Regions from separate parts of the Homo sapiens genome. Here region 1 is linked to region 2. Evidence: fine-mapped expression QTL. A gene starts in region 2. The other region holds a variant in brackets. All regions are shown on one strand. Distances are between the middles of the regions.

Region 1 (5,372 bases), 24 kb before region 2:
CCCCTGAATCTAGCCTGTGCATGCAGTGACATTTCCTCCTGGATGCTTGATAGGCAGCTCTAATTTCCCCCTAATACCTACCCTTTCCCTGTCTTCCTAAGTCTGATTTATGATTTATCACCATCTACTCAGTTTCTTATAAAAAATCTAAAGACCATCCTTGACTCCTCTTTCCATTAACTCTACATCCTATCCACCAGTAATTCATATAAACTCCACTTTCTAAATAATCCCCAATTCAACTACTTCATACCATGTTCTCTGCTACCACCATCTCTCACTGGACACTCAAACACCCTCCTAATTGGTTTCCTTACCTCCTCTTCTGACTCTCTGTAGTCCATCATCCACTCAGATGCCAGGATGATCTTTTATAAAGGTAATTCAGATCTAGTTACTCCCCTTCTTTTTTCTTTTCTTTTCTCTCTTCTTTTCTTTCTTTCTTTCTTTTTTTTTTTTTTTTTTTGACAGAGTCTTGCTCTGTCACCCAGGCTGGAGTACAATGGCGCAATCTTAGCTCACTGCAACTTCCGCCTCCTGGGTTCAAGCAATTCTCCTGCCTCAGCCTCCCGAGTAGCTGGGATTACAGGCGCACACCACCACACCTGGATAATTTTTTGTATTTTTAGTAGAGACAGGGTTTCACCATGTTAGCCAGGCTGGTCTCGAACTCCTGACCTCATGATCCGCCTGCCTCAGCCTCCCAAAGTGCTGGAATTACAGGTGTGAGCCACTGCGCCTGGCCTTTACTCCCCTTCTTCTTTTTTTTTTTCTTTTTTGAGATGGAGTTTCACTCTTATTGCCCAGGCTGGAGTGCAATGGCACAATCTTCCCTCACTGCAACCTCTGCCTCCTGGGTTCAAGTGATTCTCCTGCCTCAGCCTCCCAAGTTTCTGGGATTACAGGCATGTGCTACCACGGCCAGCTAATTTTGTATTTTTAGTAGGGATGAGGTTTCACTATGTTGGTCATGCTGGTCTCGAACTCATGACCTCAGGTGTCAAACTCATGACCTCAGGTGGTCCACCCACCTTGGCCTCCCAAAGTGCTGGGATTACAGGCGTGAGCCACGGCACCTGGCCTTACTCATTTTCTTAAAACCATCCATCGGCTTCAAGTTGCAGTTAGTTTTAAAACCTAAAGTCTGGCTGGGCGCAGTGGCTCATGCCTGTAATCCCAGCGCTTCGGGAGGCCGAGGGAGGTGGATCACCTGGGGTCAGGAGTTTGAGACCAGCCTAGCCAATATAGTGAAAACCCGTCTCTACTAAAAATATAAAAAGTAGCCGGGTGTGGTGGCAGGTGCCTGTAATCCCAGCTACTCGGGAGGCTGAGGCAGGAGAATCGCTTGAACCCGGGAGGCAGAGGTCGCAGTGAGCCGAGATCGCGCCACTGCACTCCAGCCTGGGGGACAAGAGCGAGACTTCATCTCAAAAAAAAAAAAAAAAAAAAAAAAAAAAAAAAAAAACCCAACCTAAAGTCCTTTCTATGATTTACAAATTCCTACACAATCTAATACCTATGTTGCTTTGTACATATTGGCACCATTCTTTCCCACCTTATGACCTTTGTTGGCTATTCCTTTGGTTTCAAATGTTCTTTACTAGGATTGTGGTATAGCTAATTTCTTATCATTCAGAGCTCAGCTTAAATGCTACTCCCTCAGAGGTCTTCCCCGGATACCCAATGTAAGTAGCCACTCTTGAAATTATCTGCTTAGCATTTATTGTTGGTTTTCTCATTTACTGGTGCCTTTATTTTTTAAATTTCAATATTTGAATAGATGACATGTTCACATGCTTCCAAAAAATGAAAAGTAATAAATAGGTATACAGTGAGAAGTCTCTCTTGCTCCTCCCACCTCCTAGTCCTCTGTCTCCCAGGTCCTACCCCTAGATATTTTGTGCAAATATTTTTCTTTTTTTTTTGAGACGGAATCTTACTCTGTCTCCCAGGCTGGAGTGCAGTGGCACATTCTCAGCTCACTGCAACCTCTGCCTCCTGGGTTCAAGCAATTCTCCTCCCTCAGCCTCCTGAGTAGCTGGGATTACAGGTGTTAGCCATCACGCCTGGCTAATTTTTGTATTTTTAGTAGAGACATGGTTTCACCATATTGGTCAGGCTGGTCTCGAACTCCTGACCTCGTGATCTGCCCGCCTTGGCCTCCCAAATTGCTGGGATTACAGGCGTAAGCCACCATGCCCGGCTTTTTCCTTCCTTCCTTCCTTCCTTCTTTCTTTCTTTCTTTTGTTTTTTTTGTTTGTTTGTTTTGTTTTTTTTGAGACAGTGTCTTGGTCTGTTTCTCAGGCTGGAGTGCAGTGGTGCAATCTTGGCTCACTGCAACCTCTGCCTCCCGGGTTCAAGCAATTCTGCTGCCTCAGCCTCCCAAGTAGCTGGGACTACAGGCGCGCGCCACCA[T/C]GCCCGGCTATTTTTTTGTATTTTTAGTAGAGATGGGGTTTCACCACGTTGGCCAGGCTGGTCTCAAACTCCTGACCTGGTGATTTGCCCACCTTGGCCTCCCAAAGTGCTGGGATTACAGGCGTGAGCCACCGCTTCTGGCCTTATTTTTTTTTTTCACAAATAGTAACTTACTATATAATCTCTTATAGAATCTTTTGCTTTCTTTTTGTCTTCATGTAGCTGGGAGATCTGGCTAACTTATTATTTATTTATTTATTTATTTATTTGAGACAGAGTTTTGCTCTTGTCGCCCAGGCTGGAGTGCAGTGGCATGATCTCAGCTCACTGCAACCTCCCCCTCCCAGGTTCAAGTGATTCTCCTGCCCTAGCCTCCCGAGTAGCTGGGATTATAGGCATGCGCCACCATATCTGGCTAATTTTGTATTTTTAGTAGAGACAGGGTTTCTCCATGTTGGTCAGACTGGTCTTGAACTCCCGACCTCAGGTGATCTGCCTGCCTCAGCCTCCCAAAGTGCTGGGATTATAGGCTTGAGCCTCTGCGCCCAGCCTGACTAACTTATTAGTAGGATTTTAGATAGTTCAGAGTACAATAGGAGGGCAGGAGAACCGGGTTCAGGTTCAAGACAAAGAACTGAGACAAAGAACCACAGCAACAGGTACCATTTGGCCAACATATGCTGCCAGATAAGTGAAGCGTTTTCTCCACTCAAGAATCTCCTTGGAGACAGTCCAACTGGCCAAGATTAGGTCATGTATCCAACCTTTGACTGTACAGGTCACTGAGAGGAAAGATATAACAATGTCCTGATACCCCTTGGCTTCTGTATGGGTTACTTTGGCTGTGCCCAACTGGGGAGAGGTAATTCACCAAAAGGAAATTAAACTGTGATTAGGAAGAATTAGGATGGGAGAATAGCCAATAAACAAGGGTATTAATAGCACCTACAGAGTTCATGCCTTTTTATGCATTAAGTATACCTTTTATATATTAAGTATATATTTAGTAAAACAAAAAAAACTAGGTCAACAGTAGAGGTCCAAGAGTATTGTTTTTCTTTTAAAGGACATGGTACATTATTTGAATTGGAAAAATCCTGCCATGAATCCATGTTAAAGAGATGTTTTCCAGCTGCCTTACTATGAAGTCAGCGTCTCACCAGCAGAGTGCAATTGGTCTGTAAGGCATAACAAAAAGACCTTGTATTAAGTCAGTCATAGCCTTTGAAAGGCCATTAGTTAACCAAAGGCCATATTTAAGTTTTGCTTTGTAAGGTCTCTACGAAATACTTAGCTAAGGCCATTCTCTTACTCGTTTTCTATCTGGGTGAAGGGGATTGGTTTGTTTCTTTTAGTTACATTGTTATTTATTATAGACATTTTGATTTGGAGAGGTCTTCAGCAAGAAATTACAACTTTAAGTTAGAGATACAGCAAATTTAATGAGTGGCTAGGGAAACATGTCAGACATATTATGAATACAGGCATGAATGTGAGAACTTGTAGGATATCTTTTTTTTTTTTTTTTTTTTGAGACAGAGTCTCGCTCCGTTGCCCAGGCTGGAGTGCAGTGGCGCCATCTTGGCTCACTGCAACCTCCACCTCCTGGGTTCAAGGGATTCTCCTGCCTCAGTCTCCTGAGTAGCTGGGACTACAGGCATGTGCCACCACACTCGGCTAATTATTGCATATTTAGTAGAGATGGGGTTTTGCCATGTTGGCCATGGTGGTCTTGAACTCCTGACTTCAAGGGATTCACCTGACAGACACATGCAGGAGCAACTGGCTAATTTTTTTATGTCTATTTTTTGTGGAGATGAGGTTTCTTCATTTTGCCTAGGTTGGTCTTGAATTCCTGGCCTCCAGCGATCTTTCTGCCTCGGCCTCCCAAAATGCTGGGATTACAGGCTTGAGCCACTGCACCTGGCTGGATATCTTTAGTTAAGAATGAATAGATAGGGTTAGGTGAAGTAAACCCTATTAAGGAATGATGGGAGATAAGACGGGAAGCAGATTATAGAGAGCTTTGACAGTGAAGCTAAGGTGTTTGTCCTACAAAGGATTTTTGAACAGAGGTATTCAACATAAAAAGCAGTAATATTAATCTGGCAGTTGTGTGCAAGATGGGCTGAAAGAACAGATCCAGTAAGTCAGGAAACATTAATTGTCCATATATGCTATGACATTCCAAGCCAGCTGGGAATTACTGGTGTGATCTTTGGTTTGTTGCAGCAGTCACTAGCTAAATAATATATTCCTATTGGAGCCATGATGTGACACAGGAAACTGCATCAAATTCTTCCAACTTCCTCATTAAATTGATACTCATAGGTGACTTTCAGTCTCAATAAATTGAGAATTTCTCCCAATATTAATGACATTCTCACGGTGCTGGATCCTCTCTTGCCTTCCTCTGAACTATCAGAATTTATACTCAGATTTTTTCTTAATCGTTATAATACTGTCTTAAATTGTATATATTTTATCTTTAGTGCTAACTCATTTATACAATGCTACAATTTTATTTTAATTTATTTTAATTTATTTTAATTATTTTAATTTATTTAATTTATTTTAATTTACTTTTTTTTTTTTTTTTTTGAAGCGGAGTCTTGCTTTGTCGCCCACGCTGGAGTGCAGTGGCGCCATCTTGGCTCACTGCACGCTTTGCCTCCCGAGTTCACGCCATTCTCCTGCCTCAGCCTCCCAAGTAGCTGGGACTACAAGCGCCCACCACCACGCCCAGCTAATTTTTTGTATTTTTAGTAGAGACGGGGTTTCACCGTGTTAGACAGGATGGTCCCGATCTCCTGACCTCATGATCCGCCCGCCTCGGCCTCCCAAAGTGCTGGGGTTACAAGCGTGAGCCACCGCACCCGGCCTAATTTTTACTATTTTTTTTGAGACAGAGTTTCGCTCTTGTTGCCCAGGCTGGAGTGCAATGGCAAGATCTCAGC
Region 2 (5,372 bases):
ACAGGAAGAATAATGGCTTAGCTAAAAGATTATTATCGAACATCATTAAAAGTAGAATTAAAAAAGGATCTCATATACTTCTCTATTTAAATGTTAGTATCTATCTTTTCTCAACTACAAGTTGGGAGCAAGAATCACGTTTGTATATTTTCTCACAGCCTCCAAAACACATTTGACCGAACTTAAAAATCAATGAGATGCACTTTCAGAATTCCCTTTTGTGTCAGGACCTGTAACAGGTGTACCCTGTTGCACAGAAATCAGAGCTAATCTTTGTTTCAATTCGTAGAGCTTTGTGGTTGATGTTATTTTTCAACTTAAAACACTAATTATGCTTTAAAAAATATTTCCTTTCCTCACTTAGAGATGTTTAAGAATACTCACTTAAGTCAATTTCCTGTCCCAGAGGATATTTACATACAAGCATTTTCAGTGGTATGAAAACATAAGAACTTCAATTTTTCCAGGTATCGACAACCAACTTGCCTTGTGTCTTTCTTCTGAAACAGCGTCTCACTCTGTCGCCCAGGCTGGAGTGCAGTGGCGTGATCTCGTCTCACTGCAAACTCCGCCTCCCGGGTTCACGCCATTCTCCTGCCTCAGCCTCCCGAGTAGCTGGGACTACAGGCGCCCGCCACCTTGCCCGGCTAATTTTTTTGTATTTTTAGTAGAGACGGGCTTTCACCGTGTTAGCCAGGATGGTCTCGATCTCCTGACCTCGTGATCCGCCCGCCTCGGCCTCCCAAAGTGCTGGGATTACAAGCGTGAGCCACCACGCCCAGCCGCCTTGTGTCTTCTTAAGAGTCTAAAGGATTCTACACACCGTGGCATATACTCTCACCCTCACCCGCCTTTGTTTTTCTTTTAAATCAAAGGATTTCCCAATTTATCACAGCTGGAAATTTCAGCTATCACATACTAAAGTTAAATGTAAAGAGGCATTAGTGTGTGTTACATGAACTCTACTAGTTTCCTTTTAGAGTGAAAAAACTACAGAATACCTCAGTGAGAGTCTGAAACTTCTCACTTTCAAAACTAAAAAGCTGCCAGAAATTTGTTCAAAGAGTGAATCCATAATCATTAATACAAACGCTCCATTCTTTTCACCATGTGAACTACTACGGCAATAGCCTCCTCGTCGGGTTCCCTGCATTTGCCTCTTTAACTCTTCTTTTTTTCGCTTCCTCTACTCTTCAGCCAGGGATGACATTCCAATCGGAGCCATCTCTCCCTTTTGATTGAGATTCCTTGGAAGATATCCCATTGCTATTAGGAGAAAACCAAAACTCCTTTACAAAGCCTAAAAGGTTCGACACTCCCCCTCATCCCATCTCTCCAGGCTCAGTTCTTCATATTGGAAAAGCTCCCTTCCGCCACAGGGCTTTCTGACAAGTTAGTCTTTTTGTCTGGAATGTCTTTTCCTTTTCTCTTTCCTTAGTTAACTCCTGCTAGCCCTTCAGCTCTCAGCTCGATCCTCACTTGCTCAGAAACCCTTCCTTTCCCTCCCTAAAGAAGCCAAATTCCCTCATTCTCCTATCACCGTGGAACTCTCCTCTGGGGCACTGCCACTGCGGTAATTTCACATCGTTTTGTTCAGCATCTGTCCGTCTCACCAGGCGCAGGTCTACGAAGGCAGAGGCCACCCCAGTGGTCGGCGCTCAACACCCATGAAGAAATGAAAGCGCCTTCTAACGCGTTAGACGATGAAACCAGGGCACACAACCTTGCGTCTAAGAAGTGAACATCCCATGCAAAAGACTTTTCAAAGGGAAGGGCCTGGTTTGAGAATGGCCAGAGACATACAAATGTGAAGCGCATACTGAATCCTTCCATTCATACTCCGGGAGAAAGACGATGGATCTGAAAGAAGCCGCCTGATATAAACAGGGAATTTCAATCACTTCGAGGCCGATTTTCCACAGCGGCTGGGCAGAGAACTGCAAACGTATACAGTGCTAGCACAGAGTCCGGAGGGGAAGAAACGGTGAGGTTTCTGCTTCCTCCTCGCTCAGATGCTCCCTTCCGCCCCACTTGGCCAACCCTTCCTCTCCCTCCTCGCTTAAAGCTAGGGGATGGAAAATTCATACACAATCCGGTTCAGCATCCGGGTCCTCACTCTCCTTTCTTTCTTTCCTCTGCCCCGCCTCCCAGCCTCCCCCGCCCTTCTTCCCATCCGGGTTCCCCCCAGCCGCCGCCACTGCCGCTCACAGTTCAACGATGATATCACGACTTTCACGCCGCCGGTCCGGGAGTAACTGTACCCCGCATCAACTTCCTATTTTATAATGTGGACTTAGGCTCTTCCCGATGCCTACATGAATCCTTCCCACTATTTCACCACAGAACTCTCCGCCCTCCTCAGCCGCCAGCGACACCGCATTAGTTGGTGCAAGAAAATGCGCCATCCCGGTCACACTGCGCAGGCGTCGTTGCCGCCTCCCTACTGCTTTGTTGCCCCGCCCCTTTCACCTCCCCCCCGCCCCCGCACCGGTCCACGCAGGCGCAGGGCATTGCGGGCCTTGCAGTTCTCGCGGACGAGGATTTGCGCGTTGGCCCCAGAGTATGGACTTTATTTCCCAGAAAGCCTTGAGGCGTAACTTTCTGTTTCCATAGAACTGGTGGGAAAATGGCGTCGTTGTTTGTATCCAGGGACCAATAGGAACAGTGTATAGGCGGGTTCTAAAGAACTTTAACCAATCCAAGGTCGTCTAAGAGGCCATCCGGGAAAGAGGTAGGGGAGGGGGGGAAAAAAAATCTAGGGGAGGGGAGAAAGGGGGGGAACCTAGAGTCGGTGGGGGGGAAGCGATGTTTGCCCGTCAGTCGAGTCCGGAGTGAGGAGCTCGGTCGCCGAAGCGGAGGGAGACTCTTGAGCTTCATCTTGCCGCCGCCACGGCCACCGCCTGGACCTTTGCCCGGAGGGAGCTGCAGAGGGTCCATCGCCGCCGTCCTCTGGAGGGCAGCGCGATTGGGGGCCCGGACCTCCAGTCCGGGGGGGATTTTTCGTCGTCCCCCTCCCCCCAACCAGGGAGCCCGAGCGGCCGCCAAACAAAGGTACCAGTCGCCGCCGCGGGAGGAGGAGGAGCCGGAGCCTCTGCCTCAGCAGCCGCTGGACCCGCCGCCCTTCTTCCCCATCTCTCCCCCGGGCCTGCTGGTTTTGGGGGGGAGAAGGAGAGAGGGGACTCTGGACGTGCCAGGGTCAGATCTCGCCTCCGAGGAAGGTAGGGATATTTTCTGGGGCTTTCGTGGTCTCCTAAGGGGGTTCTTTTGGGAGTCGCTGGGCCCGGCCAAGGAGCAGAGGAAGATCGCGGTGGTGGTCCCTGCGGCGCCCGAATTCGGGGCCTCGGCCTCCCGGGAACCCCCACCCCCCGCAGCCGCTGTGTCCGAGCCGCCCCCTGGCTGGGCGGCCGCACACTCAGCGGTTTAGCGGCCGCGGTCGGGGGCCCGGGCAGGGTGGGGGCCGTTCCGCCTCCGGGGCCCTCGGCCCTCACGTTGTCCCCGCGGCGGGGCCAGATGTTGATCTCGCTCCCACTTGTCGGGTCTGAGCCCGGAACGGGACGTGGGCAGGGGCTCTGTGGCGGGCCGGTCCTGCCCGCGGCCCACAGGCCCTCCTGGCCCCTCGGTGGCCCCCGGCCGGCCTCTCGCTCGGACGCGGCGCGTGGGGGCGCGGATTCGCTCGGCCGGGCGCCGAGGCCCTAGGGGAGAGCGGCCGGCCCTGCGCCGGACGCCGGGCTTGTTGTGAGTTTCTTCTCTGACAGAAATGGCGTCATTGTCGTAGACGGGAAACTCCGTCGGGTCTCGACAATGGGGACGGGAAGCTGCCGAGCTGTGTAGGTGGTTGGGTTTGCGGGGATGGCGGGGCCGGAGGGAGCCCCGAGTCGGCGTGTGATGGTTCGGGGGCTGGCGCCTGGTTGCGGCTCTTTCTTCGGGGTTCGGACGTCGCTCGCTTCTTTCCCTCCGCCTCCGCCAGTGCAGAGGGGCTCCTGTGGTGTTGACTGGGTGTCTTTTGTTTCCCCTCCAGGTGCAGCTGAACCTGGTGTTTTAGAGGATACCTTGGTCCCAGAGTCATCATGAAGGTAAGATTGCCTGCGGAAAACGAATCTCTGGGGTTATCGAATTCAGGAAGTAGGAGGTTTCGACGAGGTCGTCGTGTGGGGCTTCCGAGTTTTGCAGAGGAAGGTGTGTTTGGTGACTTGGTGACCGAGCCCTTCCCCAGAGAGACCGGGGTCAGCTGGCGGGCTTTGCTGTGGAGTTGGAGGCAGTTATAGGATGTCTCAACTGAAGATGATTCTCCCATATTGAACATCTCTTTTTGTAGGGAATGAGAGGAATAACGGCATGAATTAAAGTGTTTTAAAAGGTAAAATAAAAAGCAAGTCAGGTAATCTGACCCTAGAAACTGAACTGTATTGTGGTTCTATCAGTTACACTGATGAAAGAGAATCTTATTTATTGTGTGAACAGTACTGTAAAATTTTAGCAGAAAACTCTTTGACTCGTCACAAAAATAATTTAATTGAAAGATTTAAAAAGAGAATTTTTGTGATTTTTTACACAATTCAGAGATACCAGTTGTTTCTTGTATTTCCAGTGACTTGGGGTTATATGGTTTATTTTTCTTTATTGATCTGGTTGGTCTGTAAATAAGTCAGAGGCTCTGTTGCATTATGATGTGTGGAAAACTGATGGCCAGGTTCCTCTTAGATGTCAATATGTTAACTGAGTGGAGAATAGGGTCAAAAAATTTGCTTAATTGTTGGAAGAAATGATAACGATAAAAATACAGGTATTTTTGTTACTTGAGAGAATATGTATATGAATGCTGTCTTTTTTTTTTTTAAACACATGCTAGAATAAAACCTTAGATTTTTGAAAAGTCTGGATTCAACTGGTGGAACTTAGACACTAGCTTGTATTTTTTCATCCATTACAAATTCAGAAGTGCTTGAAAAGGGTAGAGTGTTCACAAGTGTAGAAATGCAACAGATAGCATGTTAGAATATCAACGTTGTCTACTTTTGACAGTTCCTTTGAACTATTTAAAAAAATATTTCACTTGTCCTCAGAATCAAGACTGCTTTGACAATTTTGCATCCAAATTAAAATTTGTAATACTTGTGGTTGTAGAAGGTAAAAGCTGTGGCTACTTAAATCTTGGTCTACTATACAGAGTAATTAAGTTTAGTCTAATTTTTTTAAGGTTTTCTCTTTGAGTTTGGGATGCTGTAAACTACCTGAAACAGTTTATTCCTATCTCATTTCATGAAGCATAGACATGTTTCAGGAATGAATCCCTTTTGTTAGTCACAAATCCTAGCTATAACTCTCATCACCTGTGTAAAACAGTGGTGAAAGTGCATTTATTAGGTAACTCG

The links. PIP is the estimated chance that this variant, and not a neighbour inherited with it, causes the effect.
Region 1: its variant is fine-mapped to the expression of GGPS1 in monocytes (TOPMed, PIP above 0.99). The same link has a PIP of 0.9 or more in fibroblasts.

Annotation. Positions count from the first base shown.
Region 1 is chr1:235,349,874-235,355,245 of GRCh38, reverse strand. No RefSeq gene overlaps it. Among named protein-coding and RNA genes, the nearest start is that of TBCE, 15 kb to the left of the region's middle. The variant T/C (reference allele first, on the strand shown) is at 2,416.
Region 2 is chr1:235,325,615-235,330,986 of GRCh38, reverse strand. It overlaps GGPS1 (geranylgeranyl diphosphate synthase 1), which reads right to left and starts at 2,417. Exons shown (of 4, transcript NM_004837.4): 1 at 2,209-2,417. It overlaps ARID4B (AT-rich interaction domain 4B), which reads left to right and starts at 2,808. Exons shown (of 24, transcript NM_016374.6): 1 at 2,808-3,218; 2 at 4,019-4,073. The coding sequence starts at 4,068. RefSeq lists enhancers at 1,618-1,767, 2,268-2,357, 2,598-2,657, 3,394-3,919, 3,938-4,127 and silencers at 3,138-3,187, 3,358-3,587, 3,598-3,687.